Homo sapiens: one gene and its partner. The protein of the gene in region 1 interacts with the protein of each later gene in a biochemical or structural test. Each region holds a gene or a part of one and is shown in the gene's direction. Other genes may lie near its edges.

What was found.
Region 2: of the proteins of CDC25C (region 1) and CHEK1, one has a biochemical effect on the other in vitro, tested with the Homo sapiens proteins (16 studies listed by BioGRID and IntAct, with this or other methods).

Annotation. Positions count from the first base shown.
Region 1 is NC_000005.10:138,314,126-138,322,339, reverse strand, and holds part of CDC25C (M-phase inducer phosphatase 3), read left to right. Parts: intron 1-2,965; coding exon 2,966-3,121; intron 3,122-8,214. UniProt on the Homo sapiens protein: Functions as a dosage-dependent inducer in mitotic control. Tyrosine protein phosphatase required for progression of the cell cycle. When phosphorylated, highly effective in activating G2 cells into prophase.
Region 2 is NC_000011.10:125,628,153-125,635,910, forward strand, and holds part of CHEK1 (serine/threonine-protein kinase Chk1), read left to right. Parts: intron 1-1,079; coding exon 1,080-1,144; intron 1,145-1,238; coding exon 1,239-1,308; intron 1,309-5,010; coding exon 5,011-5,199; intron 5,200-7,276; coding exon 7,277-7,381; intron 7,382-7,758. UniProt on the Homo sapiens protein: Serine/threonine-protein kinase which is required for checkpoint-mediated cell cycle arrest and activation of DNA repair in response to the presence of DNA damage or unreplicated DNA.

The DNA of each region.
Region 1 (8,214 bases):
CGACAGAGCGAGACTCTGTCTCAAATAATAATAATTATAGGCCGGGTGCTGTGGCTCACGCCTGTAATCCCATCACTTTGGGAGGCCGAGGCAGGCGGATCACAAGGTCAGGAGATCGAGACCATCCTGGCTAACATGGTGAAACCCTGTCTCTACTAAAAGTACAAAAAATTAGCCAGTCGTGGTGGCGGGCGCCTGTAGTCCCAGCTACTCCGGAGGCTGAAGTAGGAGAATGGCGTGAACCCGGGAGGCGGAGCTTGCAGTGAGCCAAGATCGCGCCACTGCACTCCAGCCTGGGCGACAAAGCATGTCTCTGTATCAAAAAATAAAATAAAATAATAATAATAATTAGTAGTGATTTCATGTGATTATTATCCATGCGTAATTTCTCTAGTGTCTTTTGTGCCCTTATAATACTGGGGTCTTAACTTACCCAGGCATTGACTTGCCTTTCATAGACCATGGACTCCAGAGATTTGGATTATTATTTCTAATCTCAACCCTGAGGGAAAGCTATTTTAACATATTCTATCCTATGAAGATAAAGTTGATCATGGTTTTTTTTTTTTTTTTTTTTTTTTTTTTTTTTGAGACAGAGTCTTGCTCTGTCACCAGGCTGGAGTGCAGTGGTGCGATCTCAGCTCACTGCAACCTCTGCCTCCTGGGTTCAAGCAATTCCACTGCCTCAGCCTCCCCAGTAGCTGGGACTATAGGCGTGCACCACCACACCCAGCTAATTTTTTGTATTTTAGTAGAGACGGGGTTTCACCATGTTGGCCAGGATGCTCTCGATCTCCTGACCTCGTGATCCACCTGCCTCGGCCTCCCAAAGTGCTGGGATTACAGGCATGAGCCACCGCGCCTGGCCACTAAGTTGATCATGTTTTATTTAGGTTTTTGGTTTCTAGGATGGAGGGAAGACCTGGAGTATGTTCAATTATTGGATAGTCTTATATGTGATTTTTTTTAATTGCAGTAAAATGTACATAATATTTACAATTTTAACTATTTGTGAGTGTGCAGTCTAGTGACAGTAAGTATATTAATAATGTGAGACTATCACCAGAACTCATTTCCAGAATTTTTTCATTATTCAAAACAGAAGCTGTATACCCTTAAGTGATAACTCCCCATCCCTGTTTCTGCCCAGCCAATGATAACCTCTATTTTCTGTGTCAGTGAATTTGACTATTCTAGATACCTCATATGAGTAGAATAATATTATATTTTGTCCTTTCATGTGTGTGTGTGAGGTCTCACTCTGTCACCTCTGCTGGAGTACAGTGGCACAATCATAACTCACTGCAGCCTCAAACTCCCGGGCTCTGATTATTCTCCCACCTCAGCCTACCAAGTAGGTGGGACTGCAAGTGTGTGCCACTATGCCTGGCTACTTTTTTTTTTTTTTTTTTTTTTTTTTTTTTGAGACAGAGTCTCACTCTGTCACCCAGGCTGGAGTGCAGTGGTGCAATCTTGACTCACTGCAACCTTTATCTCCCAGGTTCAGGTGATTCTTATGCCTTAACCTCCCTAGTAGCTGGGATTACAGACGTGTGCTACCATGCCTGGTGAATTTTTTTGTATTTTTAGTAGAGACGGAGTTTCACCATGTTGGCCAGGCTGGTCTTAAACTCCTGGCCTCATGTGATCTGCCCACCTCAACCTAATTTTTTTGTATATTTTGTAGAATCAGGGTTTTGCCATGTTGCCCAGGCTGGTCTCAAACTCCTGGGTTCAAGAGATCCATCTGCTTCAGCCTCCCATAGTGCTGGGGTTACAGGTGTGAGCCACTGCGTCCAGCCTATATTTTCATTTAGCGTAATGTCTTCAAAGTTCATCTATGTCATAGCATGTATTAGAATTTCATTTCTTTTGTATGTATATATCATATTTTGTTTATCCATTCATCTGTTGATGGACATTTTGAGTTGTTTCCAACCTTTTGGCCATTGTGAGTAATGCCGTTATGAACATAGGTGTACAAAATCTGCTTGAGTCCTTGCTTTTATTTTATTTTGTGTATTTTTTTTTTCCAAGATGGAGTCTTTGCCCTGTCACCCAGGCTGGAGTGCAGTGGAACGATCACAGCTCACTGCAACTTCCACCTCCCTGGTTCAAGCAGTTCTCCTGCCTCAGCCTCCCAAGTAGCTGGGATTACAGGCACATGCTACCATGCCCGGCTAATTTTTGTATTTTTAGTAGAGATGGGGTTTCAACATGTTGGCCAGGCTGCTCTCGAACTCCTGACCTCGTGATCTGCTGGCCTCGGCCTCCCGAAGTACTGGGATTACAGGCGTGAGCTACTGCGCCCGGCCCCTGCTTTTAATTCTTTTGGGTATATATTCAGAAGTAGAATTGCTTGATTACATGATAATTCTACATTTAATTTTTTGAGGAACTGCCATGCTATTATCCATAGAATGCCTCTGCACCCTTTTACATTCCCACCAGCAATGCACAAACACTTGTTATTTCTTATAATGGCTATCCTAATGGGTATAAAGAAGTATCTCTTGCAATTTTCATATGCATTTCCATAATGATTACTTTGTTGAGCATCTTTTGATGTGCTTATGGGCCATTTGTATATCTTCTTTGGAGAAATGTCTATTCATGTCCCTTTTGATTGTTATTGTTGTTGTTACTGAGTTGTAGGAGTTCCTTATATATTCTGATATTAATCTCTCATCAAATATAAGACTTGCAAATGTTTTCTCCCATTTTGTGGGTTGCCTTTTCATTCCCTTAATGGTGTTCTTTGATGCACAAAAGTTTTCCATTTTGATGAAGACCAATTTATCTGTTTTTTTCTTTCGTTACCTGTGCTTTTGGTGGCATTATCCAAATCCAGTGTCATGAATTTTTTCCCTTATCTTTTCTTCTAAGAGTTTTATAGTTTTAGCTCTTACATTTAGAACTTTGATATATTTTGAATAGTTTTTAATGTTGTCAATATACTTGACAGGACAATGGAAACTTGGTGGACAGTGAAATGAAATATTTGGGCAGTCCCATTACTACTGTTCCAAAATTGGATAAAAATCCAAACCTAGGAGAAGACCAGGCAGAAGAGATTTCAGATGAATTAATGGAGTTTTCCCTGAAAGATCAAGAAGCAAAGGTAAAGTGTTCTGTGGTAGTATCTTTGTATTCTTCATATTCCTTCATTCTGTTAAAAGAAGAACTAGACAAATTAAACTTAGGAGAGTTTATTTGAGCAAAAAAATAACTAGTGAATCCAGCAACCCTCATAGCCAGAACATGTTCAGTAAAACTCCAGTTTGCCATGTGGTCAGGCAGTATTATGGACAGAAAATGGAAATGAAGTACAGAAAATAGAAGTGAGGTACAGAGACAGCCCAGTTGGTTGCAGCCTTGAGTTTGCCTTATTTGAACATGGTTTAAACAGTTGATTGCTTGTGGTTGACTGAAGCTCAGCTGCTGTGCTTTCCTGAGACTCAGCTTTTTGATACAAAAGTATACTTCTAAATTAGGCTTTCAGTTAGTTTAAGTACTAAGTTAGGTTGCAACTTGGTATATAAAGACTCAAGTACAGAGGCATCCCCAGGCCAAATTTAGTTTAATTAAGAATTCATTCTTCTTTTTTTTGTTGTTTGTTTTTTTTAAGACAGATTCTCGCTCTGTCGCCTAGGCTGGAGTGCAGTGGCGCCATCTTGGCTCACTGCGACCTCCTCTTCCCAGGTTCAAGCGATTCTCCTGCCTCAGCCTCTCGAGTAGCTGGGATTACAGGTGTGCACCACCACACCCGGGTAATTTTTAGTATTTTTAGTAGAGACAGGGTTTCACCATGTTGGCCAGGCTGGTCTTAAACTCCTGGCCTCAGGTGATCTACCCACCTCAGGCTTCCAAAGTGCTGGGATTGCAAGCGTGAGCCACCATGCCCAGCCAACAATTCATTCTTGAATAAACATTTTATGCCTGATATGTATGAGTCACTCTACTAAATGCTAGAGCTACAGAGATCAACAAGATGTGATAACCTATCTTTATTTATTTATTTATTTTTGAGATGGAGTCTTGCTGTGTCACCTAGGCTGGAGTGCAGTGGTGGTATCTCAGCTCACTGCAACCTCCGTCTCCTGGGTTTAAGTGATTCTCTTGCCTCAGCCTCCCAAAGCACGCCATCATGCCTGGCTAATTTTTTGTAATTTTAGTAGAGACGGGGTTTTGCCATGTTGGCCAGACTGGTCTCGAACTCCTGACCTCAAGTGATCTGCCCGCCTTGGCCTCCCAAAGAGCTGGGATTACAGGCATGAGCCACCACGCCTGGCGTAACCTATCTTTAGACTGTAGGGTTACCTGACTGATAGGTTATCAGGTCACTACAGAAATCTTCTTACTGCTGGTGAACAGGTTCCAGTCAATAGTTTGAGTGGATCACCATCAAAGTAATCTAGGATAAGTAATGTCTCCAGGATAATGGTAATGTATAAATGTATAGAATATACCTAACATTACTTTTCAGGTATTTTATAATACAGTCTTTTGTTTCCTTTTTTCTTTCCCATATCACTGATAGATATACCTGAAGCATGTGGGTTATAGCCTATATGCTGATATGCCAAAGATAGTTTCTGAGGCATTTAGCTTTTTTTGGTTTTTGGTTTTTGGTTTTTTTTTTTTTTTTTTTTTTTTTAGATAGACAGGGTCTTTCTCTGTAGCCCAGGCTGGGGTACGTGGCACAATTAAAGTTCACTGCAGCCTCAATCTCCCCAGGCTCTGGCAGTCCTCCCACCTCAGCCTCCAAGTAGCTGGGACTATAGGCACATGCCATCATACCTGGCTAATTTTTTGTATTTTTTGTAGCGATGTGGTTTCACAATATTGCCCAGGCTAGTCTCAAACTCCTGGACTCAAGTGATTCACACACCTTGGCCTCCCAAAGTGCTGGGATTACAGGCATGAGCTACCATGCCTGGCCTACATTTAGCATTTCTAAATCAGCTTTGTTGCTTTGAAACAAGTAGGGCTATGGGTTTGTCTTTAAAATTTATTCATTTCACAAGGCCAGTATGGTATAGTGGAGTTAGAACAGTTGCATTCTAGTCCTCATGCTTTTATTTTTTTTAATTATTTAATTAATTAGATAGGGTCTTGCTCTGCTCTGTCACCCAGACTGGAGTGCAGTGTTGAACTCCTGGGCTCAAGTAATCCTCCCACCTCAGCCTCCTGAGTAGCTAGGACTATAGGTGCATACCACCATGCCCAGCTAATTTTTAAAATTTTTTGTAGAGATGGGGTCTTGATGTGTTGCCCAAGCTGGTTTGGAACTCCTGCGCTCCAGCAATCCTCTTGCCTTTGTTGCGGGATCTTTAGGGTGTTGCTTTTCTGGCCAGAAACCTTTCTGCCCAGTGGTGCCTTTGCCTGAGTTGTTGTCCTGCGTCGAGGTAAGCAGACAAGTAGAGGGTTAGCAAGACGAAGAGAAGCTTTATTGAGTGTTAGAACAGCTCAGAGGAGACCCACAGGGGGCAGCTCCTCTCTGTAGGCAGTTTGTCTTATCCCGTATTCAGCTCTCAGCAGAGAGGAGGCCCTGGAGTGGGTGGCTCCTCTCTGCAGGCAGGTCCTCCCTGTTGATTTCCCAGCTTTCAGCAGACAGCATAGCTCCTCTCTCCTCTTTGGTTGTCTGATCTTTTCTCCATCCTCTACCCTGCTCTGGCTGAGCCTGGGCCTTTTATGGACCTCAGAGGGGAGAAAGTGCTTCCTGATTGGTTCATGGACTGTGAGAAAAGGCAGCACAAATCCCCATCCAGTGGGTGGGACTAGCAGCCCGGTCCCCAGCCTTTAAGCCCTCCCCGTCCTGAAGGTGGGGACTTACAGGAACCTCCCTTCTACCCAGGAGCCTGTCTGTCTCTCTCAGCAGTCCATGGCACCAGGCTGCTCACACCAAGGTGCACCTAAAGGCCAGCACTGACCACCCTCAGTCCCTACTTGGCTTCCCCTCTTTTGCTTCTCCGTGCCCAAATTCTAGAGGGGGTCAAGGTGGCAGGGTGCTGCCCTGAGGGTGCACACACAGATCCGCCCCCGGACTGTAACAGCACCTGGACTTGCCCCAACCCCACTCTGAGATTGGAGTGGGTGCCAAGAGCAGAGAGAAGTGGGGATATGGGGGTGGTGGGGAGGCCTTCCTGGGCCCCCAAGGGTGCAGGCTGCAGAGACTATTAGGTCCTGCACCTGGGAGGGCAGCTGCAGCTGCACCCGGGAAGGCAGGGATCCTGCCTGCTCCCGGCCCCCACAAGACCACAGGGAGGCTCGGATCTGCAGCCACAACTTGGGCGGCTGCAAGCCCACCCAGGAGGGCAGGGCTTCTGCCTGCTCCGTGGAACAGGAGGCCCAGGTTAACAGCTGCAGTTTGTGTAGCTCCAGCAGCACCAGGGGAGCTCCTGCCCCAACTCAGAAGGGGAAGGGCTCCCGCTAGCTCCATGGATCATGCAGCCCTATCCATACCTCTCTGCTGCAGCCAGTTTGATGACAGCAGCAAGCCCTCTGGAGTTGCAGCTGCCAACACCTTGGCCTCTCAAAGTGCTGGAATTACAAGTGTGAGCCACCGTATCCAGCCTCATTCTTTTATTTACTTGGTGGTATGACTGTTCACAAGACAACCACTTGACCTCAGTTTTTAATTTATAAAATGGAGAGCATGATAAAACAACTACCTCCTTAATAGGCTTGTTGTAAATAAAATATTAAAAGCAGTTTATGTCCTCATCACATACACACAAATGGTAACTGTGTGATGAAGGATGTGTTAATGAATTTCATTGTGGTAATCCTCATGTAATATATACGTAAATCATTATATTGTACTCCTTAAGTATATACAAATTTTATCATTTATACCTCCATAAAATAGAAAAAAAAATTTAAAGAGCAGTTTGTAATACAGTAGTCCTCTGTTATCCACAGAGAATACATTCTGAGACCCCCCAGTGGATGCCTAAAATTGCAGACAGTACTGAACCCTATATATACCATGCTTTTCCCTATGCATATGTACCTGTGATGGAGTTTTTTACTTAGGCATAGTAAGAGATTAACAATAATAACTAATAATAAAATAGAACAATTACAACAACATACTATAATAAAAATTATAGGAGGCTGGGCGTGGTGGTTTATGCCTGTAATCCCAGCACACTGGGAGGCCGAAGCGGGTGGTCAGGAGTTTGAGAGCTGCCTGGCCAACATGGTGAAACTCCATCTCTACTAAAAATACAAAAATTAGCTGGGCGTGGTGGTGAGCATCTGTAACCCCAGCTACTGGGCTGGCTGAGGCAGTAGAATCGCTTGAACTTAAACCCAGGTGGCAGAGGCTGCAGTGAGCCGAGATCGCACCGCTGTACTCCAGCCTGGGCAACAGAGTGAGACTCTAACTCAAAAAAAAAAAAAAAAAAAAGTGCTGGCTGGGCATGGTGAGTCAGGCCTGTAATCCCAGCACTTTAGGAGGTTGAGATGGGCAGATCACCTGAAGCCAGGAGTTTGAGACCAGCTTGGCCAACATGGTGAAACCCTGTCTCTATTAAAAATACCAAAAAAAAAAAAAAAATTAGCCAGGTGTGGTGGCGGGCACCTGTAATCCCAGCTACCCAGGAGGCTGAGGCAGGAGAATCGCTTGAACCTAGGAGGCAGAGGTTGCAGTGAGCCAAGATCGCTCCATTGCACTCCAGCCTGGGCAACAAGAGTGAAACTCTGTCTCAAAAAAAAAAAAAAAAAAAAAAGTGCTATAGGCTGGGAGCGGTGACTCACACCTGTAATCCCAGAACTTTGGGAGGTCAAGGTGGGTGGATCACCTGAGGTCAGGATTTCTAGACCAGCCTGGCCAACAGTATGAAACCTTGGCTCTACTAAAAATACAAAAATTAGCTGGGTGTGGTGGCAGGTGCCTGTAATGCCAGCTACTTGGGAGGCTTAGGCAGGAGAATCACTTGAACCCAGGAGGTGGAGGTTGCATTGAGCCAAGATCACACCGTTGCACTCTAGCCTGGGCAACAGAATGAGACTCCATCTCAAAAAAAAAAAAAGGTGCTATGAATGACAGGACGATTTGAATAAAGGACAGCACTTTGAGAGGCCAAGGCAGGTGGATCACCTGAGGTCAGGAGTTTGAGACCAGCCTGACCAACATGTTGAAGCCTCGTCTCTATTAAAAATACAAAAATTTAGCTGGGCATGGTGTTGGGCACCTGTAATCCCAGC
Region 2 (7,758 bases), on another chromosome or scaffold:
TTTTTCTTTGTAGACATTCTAGTTACATGAAATCATTGTATACATTTTATACATTTACAGATCTAAAATAGCATGCTGTTTCCTCTTGGTTTACATGAAATAATTGAGAATTTTCTAGGATTGCTTTTTGTATATTAAGTAAATTCTATGTTTGCTATTAATACTTAAATATTCGATGTAGAATCAAAGGATTGATATTTCAGAACACTGAGAAGTACATAAAATCTGGATCTAAATTTATAATTTAAATTTATAATTTAAAGCTATTGTATTAAATAAGTTTATCAGTTAAAAACTGATAAAGAGGTATTAGGATCTCCAGTGTGACTCAGGAGAGAGTTGAGGGTAAAAGAAATGGAGTTAATGAGAGAGATCAAAATATAAAAAGATAACTGATAAAAGAACTTTCATAATAAAACTGTTTCACGAAGGACCTCACAGGCATTTGTGGTTTTGTACTGTGAGACTATATGAAGTTTAAATCTGAGCCAGGTGTGGTGGTACATGCCTGCAATCCTAGCTACTTAGGAGGCAGGAGGATTGCTTGAGCTCAAGAGTTCCAGGTTACAGTAAGTTATGATCTCACGCCAGGGCACTCCAGCCTGGGTGAAAGAACAAGACCGTATCTCTAAAAAAAGTTAAATTATAAAAGAAGTATAATCTGTAAAATATTTAGTGAAATTGGCTTAGATTTGCCCAGACTTCCCCTTTGGCATTATATTTCAGGAATGAGAAAAATAATTAGCATAGCATTTAGAAGAAATGGGGGGAATTTCAAGGTTACTAAATAAATCAGGGTTAGTATAAGAGGAAGCAGAGGCTTTGAAGTCATGGCTTGCATTCTTGATTTGGATATTGGTTTTCTCTTTATAATTTTTCTGTGATGACGCCTTTTGCCACCTAACACAGGTAAATGTGAGTTAAGCCCCATATGTGTTAGTGGACTCCTGAATCTTTTGTTGGCATTTGCTTCTGTTTGCCTAAGCACATTTGTAAATGTCTAAGCTTCAAATTAAGAAGCTATGTGGTTGCTACCTGATTATATTTAGTCAATAAACTTACTTTCATATTTGTTTTAGAGCCAGACATAGGCATGCCTGAACCAGATGCTCAGAGATTCTTCCATCAACTCATGGCAGGGGTGGTAGGTATAGTTGTCTATTTCCCTTTTACTTAAAATTAGAGTGAATACATTACATTACCAAATTCTAGTGTGTTTCTCTCTGCATCCCTCTTAGGTTTATCTGCATGGTATTGGAATAACTCACAGGGATATTAAACCAGAAAATCTTCTGTTGGATGAAAGGGGTAAGTTTAGCATTTTATCACTACCTAAAATAAAATAAAATAATTACCTAAATTATTTTAATTACCTAATTATTTTAATATAGCCATACAAGGCAAAATCAAGTCTTTTTGCATTACTGGAATTTCAAGACAAGATCTGAAAAATCAAGGAAATTTTGGAGACTTCGTATATTTGGAAATCACAAGTCTCATTTTGCAATACAAGTGCGGATCAGGTAGAGAAATCTGACCTAGGTGCAAGCCTAGCTCACTATATGTATAAGAATAATTTTTTTTTTTTTGATACAGGCTCACTGTGTTGTCCAGTCTGGGGTGCACTGTATTATCACAGTTCACTGCAGCCTTGACCTCCTAGGCTCAAGCAATCCTACCATCTCAGCTTCCCGAGTAGCTAGGACCAACCACAGGCAGGTGCCACCATGCCTGGCTAATTTTTGATTTTTTGAAGAGGTGGAGTCTTCCTGTGTTGCTCAGGCTAGTCTTGAACTCCTGGACTCAAGCAGTTTACCAGCCTTAGCCTCCCAGAGTGTTGGGATTATAGACGTGAGCCACCATGCCTGGCCAAGAATAGTTTAAAATAATCCTTTAATGGATTAATAAAGGGAAGTTCCTGTGGAATACCCTGGACCTTAGTCTTGTCCTGTTCACTCTTTTTTTATGTATGACGTGGATAAAAATGTAAGAAATTTAGTTATATTTTCTGAATGTCATCAAATTGAGAAGGATGGATAGCGAAAGCTTTAAGCTTACAGGGTCAGAATCAAAAAAGAAATGTCAGCTGTATGAGGCAGTAGTTTTTGTCTGGTTTAATGCTTTATTCTTAGTATTAGAATAGTGCTTAACAAATGGTCAGCTTTTTTTTTTTTTTGAAACAGAGTCTTGCTGTGTTGCCCAGGCTGGAGTGTAGTGACATGATCTCGGCTCACTGTAACCTCTACCTCTCTGGTTCAGGTGATTCTTGTGCCTTAGGCCCCTGAGTAGCTGGGATTACAAGCCTGAGTCACCACACCTGGCTCATTTTTATATTTTTAGTAGAGATGGGGTTTTGTCATATTGGCCAGGCTGGTCTCGAGCTCCTGGCCTCAAGTGATCTGCCTCCCTTGGCCTCCCAGAGTGCTGGGATTATAGGTGTGAGCCGCTGTACCCAGCCTATACATGCTTTTTTCTTATGTGCATATGGATTTTACTTTTTACCCCTTTAAACTGAGTTTATATGACATAAAAATCTTTATTTTTATTTAAAACTTTAAAAATTCAGGTACACAAAAATTCTTATGTATTATAATGAAATGTAAATATATGTATATCAACCCACCTGGTTTAAAAATACAACATTATTCGTATATAAGAATGCTCACAGTGGTGATGTTTTTAATATAGCAGGAAACTAACCCAAATGTCTGTCAACAATAAATTATGAAATGCATGGCTTTTCAAGCCATGTCACAAGCAGTGACACAAGCATGTCACAAGCAGTGACATGGATGAATTTCAGGTATATAATGATGTAGAGCAAAAAGAGACAGTTGCAAAAGAATTCATATGGTCTGATTCTGTTTATACAAAGTTCAAAAATATGTAAAACCTAGTATATTGTTCAAGTATGTAAACATGGAGAAAAAAACATGCAGAAAAGCAAGGGTATAATAAAACCAAATTCAGAATGGTCTAAGAAAGTAGGGGAGGGAATGTATTTAAGGAAGTATTTAAAGATTTCAAAGGAAATAGAGCATTGTTTTTCTAAAGTGAGTGGGTGTTTATTACATTGTTATTCTTTATATCTTGTATTAATATACAAGATATAATTCTTTGTTTCTATTTAATATTTAGGAGTCTTTTAAAAAAAGAAATAAAATGTTACCAGTATTTAATGTCCTCCTGTTTATTTCATCACAAATATATTCTTCCTTTGTTTTTCTAAGAGCTAAACACATTCCTACATTTAAATTTTATTATGTGCAGTTCTCTAACATAGCTGAGTATTATGTTGCAGACATAACAAAGTCCAAGGAATACTATAGTTATCCATTAGTATTTTAAGTGATTACTACTCATAAGTAATTTGAAACTCAATCTCAGTGGTTTGTCCAATAGTGTCATATTTAACTACTGAAAAGATAATCAACTGGGTGCAGTAGCTCATGCCTGTAATCCCAGAGGCTGAGGTGGGACGATTGAGTGATTCTAGGAGTTTGAGACCAGCCTAGACAACATAGACCCTGTCTTTATGAAAAATTAAAAAAAAAAATTAGCTAGACATGGTGGTGCACACCTGGAGTCCCAGCTACTTGGAAGGCTGAAGCAGGAGGATTGATCACTTCAGCCTAGGAGGTCAAGGCTGCAGTAAGCTGTGATCACATCACTACACTCTAGTCTGGGCAGCAGAGTGAGACACTTTCTCAAAAAAAAAAAAAAAAAAAAAAAAAAAGGGTAATCACAGTAGCTACCTCCTAAGTCAGATAGAGGTAAACATTTCATTGGTTTACATATTGTGTGAATGTACTTGATTTTTAAAGAAATCAGTCCCCTATTTTGAGACATTTAAGTTGTTTCTAACTTATAAAATAGGACAGTGATGGCTTCTATCAATTTGTGTAAAAGGCCAATATAAAAATTGCGTCATGCTATAATATTTTTTATGCTATAATATTTTTTATGCCATTAGCCTTTTTGTCCCACTTACACACTATTTCATGTTAGTATGTATAGATATACCTTGTTGATTGTTTTCAAAACCTACCTCCACATTTTCCATTGTACAAATTTGGACATTTATTTACAAATAATATTGCTATGAATATTCTTATGTTTATGAATTTGTGGGATTATTTCTATGGATATAGAAGTGGGAATTGCTAGTTCAAAGAGTGAATGTTTCACAGTTTAGTATGTTTTGCCAAATTGCCCTCTGATAATAGAGGGCCTTTTCTAACTCTTAAGACTGGGTTACATTCCTTTGCTCTAAGATCCTATAGTGCTCTATATTTTTATAACCTTCATAACAGTTTTCTATTGTCAGTCTTCACTAATTTATCTATTACCTGCATTGGCTGGCATAGTGTCTGTCACTAAGTTACAGTAGATATTCACTAAACATAAGTTAAGTCCTGCCTGCAGTTTTTGTGTGTTGAAGATGGGAAGTTAGGGTGGAAGTTGGGTCTTCTGATATTTTTTTTTTGTACAGAGTTTGTCCTCTTTTTCTCAGACTCTCTACTTTGAAGAAAAAAATTACTGTGGTTTGTTGAATTTTGGTGTGTCTTCACATATTTTCTTCTGCCAACTGGGTTTGTTTGCTGCTGAGAAAGTTGTGCCTAACATACTACTGATGTTTCCTTCCTGCCCTCCACCCTACCTGATGAGGGGCCTTGCTTTACTTTCATCTCAGGTTTAGAGTGCTCTTTTCCAGAAGGGCAGCCCCTTCTGACTCCAGCCTCTTTCTTTAATCTGGTCCAGACTGTTCTGTGTGTTGATAATACTTCTTTTAAGTTAATAGAAGAGGTGAGGCCTTTTTCTACTTTTAGCATAGATGATGATTTATTTTATTTTTTTAAATTTCTTTTTGTCTATTTTGCTTATTTTAAGAGAAGTTCTACAAACCTTAAGTAACACCAGTGATTTTTTTTCAGTAAAACTTAATTCCTGTAAGTATATCTATTTGCAAAACATTTTTATTCAGTGTCATCTTTTTTTCTTTTGGTTTAGATAACCTCAAAATCTCAGACTTTGGCTTGGCAACAGTATTTCGGTATAATAATCGTGAGCGTTTGTTGAACAAGATGTGTGGTACTTTACCATATGTTGCTCCAGAACTTCTGAAGAGAAGAGAATTTCATGCAGAACCAGTTGATGTTTGGTCCTGTGGAATAGTACTTACTGCAATGCTCGCTGGAGGTAAGAGCTATTTAATCATGGTAAAACTCCTATAAAAAGTCAGATTAGTTATACTGAAATAAATGAAATAAACCAAGGAATTCATGTTTATATAATAGTTTTTGTTTTCTTTTTTAAGAGACAGGGTCTCACTCTTGGCCAGACTGGAGTACAGTGAGCTGTTATAGCTCACTGCAGCCTCAAACTTCTAGGCTCAAGCAATCCTCTGGCCTCACTCTTCCAAGTAGCTAGGACCAGTGGTGCCTGCCACAAGACATCTGGCTAAGTTTTAAAAATTCATTGTAGAGATGGGATCTTGCTGTGTTGTCCAGGCTGGTCTTAAACACCTGGTCTCAAGCAAGCCTTCTGTCTTGGTCTCCAAACTGTTAGGATTAAAGTAAAGACATGAGCCATGGTACCCAGCTTTTATAGTAGTATTTTAATAGTGTCTTGATCGGTTTGGTAACTGCTGTAACAAAGTATCATAGACTGCATAGCTTATAAACAGCAAATTTATTTCTCACAGTTCTGGAGGCTGAAAATATGAGATTAGGGGTGCCAACCTGGTCATGTTTTAGTGAGGGCCCTCTTCCTGATTTGCAGATGGCTGTCTTGCTGTGCTCTCTCATGGTGGACAGCCAAGAGAGCAGAAGCAAGCTCTATTGTGGTTTTTTTTTTTTTTTTTAGACCAGAGTCTTGCTCTGTCACCCACGCTGGAGTACAGTGATGTGATCTCAGCTCACTGCAACCTCTGCCTCCCAGGTTCTAGCAATTCTGTCCCAGGCTCCCAAGTAGCTGGGATTACAGGCATGCATCATCACACCCGGCTAATTTTTGTATTTTGAGTAGAGACAGGGTTTCACCATGTTGGCCAGACTGGTCTCAAACTCCTGACCTCAAGTGATCCCCCAACCTCAGCCTCCCAAAGTGCTGTTTTTTGGGTTTTTTGTTAAATGACCAGATGTTGTGAGATATTGTGTCTGTTTTTTGTTTTTTTGTGGTTTTTTTTGAGACAGGGTCTCACTCTATTGCCCAGGCTGGAGTGCAGTGGCACAATTCAAGGCTCACTGCAGCCTTGAGCTCCCAGGCTCAAGCGATCCTCCTGCCTCAGTCTCCTCAGTATCTGGGTCTACAGGCGTGCACCACCACACCTGGCTAATTTGTTGTGGGTTTTTTTTCACAGACGGTCTCTCCATGTTACGTAGGCTGGTCTTAAACTCCTGGGCTCAAGTAATCTGCCTACCTAAGCCTCCCAAAGTGCTGGGATTATATAATTAGTGCCCTATAAAGATACAATATTGTCCGGGCACACAAGCCCTTATTAGACATTAATAAGCTCTTAATAAGAGCACTAATACCATTTTTTGAGTGGTCCCATCACCAGGACCTAATTACGTCTCAAAGGCCCCACCTCCGAATGCCATTGCATTATGAGTTAGGATATCAACATGACTTTTGAGGGGGATACAAATATTTAGCACATTGCAAATAGTAACTTATTTATAATCCCAAAGATTTTTTAAGCTAAGGCATGCATAGTTATTAAATATCACAACACTTATCTCTCCTGTGTATCATGTAAACATTTGTGAAAACAAGACTAGGGCAAGAAATGATTCATCTGTTTTTTGGTTTTTTTTTTTTTGAGACAAAGTCTTGCTCTGTCGCCCAGGCTGCAGTGCAGCAGTGTGATCTTGGCTCACTGCAGTCTTGACCTCTTGGGTTCAAGTGATCCTCTCACTTTAGCCTCCTGAGGAGCCAGGACTACAGATGCACACCATCACGCCCAGCTAATTTTATTTATTTTTTGTAGAGATGGGGTCTCACTATGTTGCCCAGGCTGGTCTTGAACTCCTGGGCTCAAGCAGTCCTTCTGCCTCAGCCTCCCAAAGTGCTGTGATTACAGGCCTGAGCTGCCATGCCTATCCTGATTCATCTATCTTTGAAGTGCCTCTAAAGTTTCCAAGTTGGGATTCTTAGTGTGAAAACCATATTGAATTAATTCAAAGGAAACTTTTCATGGATTTATATTATTATTTTTCCTTGAAATCTTTATAATAAGAACATTTAAAAAAACTGGGACTTGCTTTGTTTTTAGAATTGCCATGGGACCAACCCAGTGACAGCTGTCAGGAGTATTCTGACTGGAAAGAAAAAAAAACATACCTCAACCCTTGGAAAAAAATCGATTCTGCTCCTCTAGGTAACTGAATTATCTTGAGTGAAAGAGTACCGATTTCTTGGATATGAAGTCTTGTGCTATTTGAATTTTTTCTTACTTTTTTTTTTGTTTTAAACTTACAAATAATTCATGTTCGTTGTAGATAAAATAGTAACTATAAGTAAAAAATTAAGGAAAAAATAACTCTTTAGTCCCAGAACTCTGCAATAGATTTTTAAAAATATTTTGGGGAGTGTATATTCAGAGCAACTTGAATCTGCTCTTAGATGGCTTTTTACTTAAAGTTTTCATATGTGCTATACTTTGTTGCAAATACACTCGTTTGTTGCTTAATTATAGGGATGCACTCTAACAAATGTTTCATTAGGTGGTTTCATCATTGTGTGAACATCATAGAG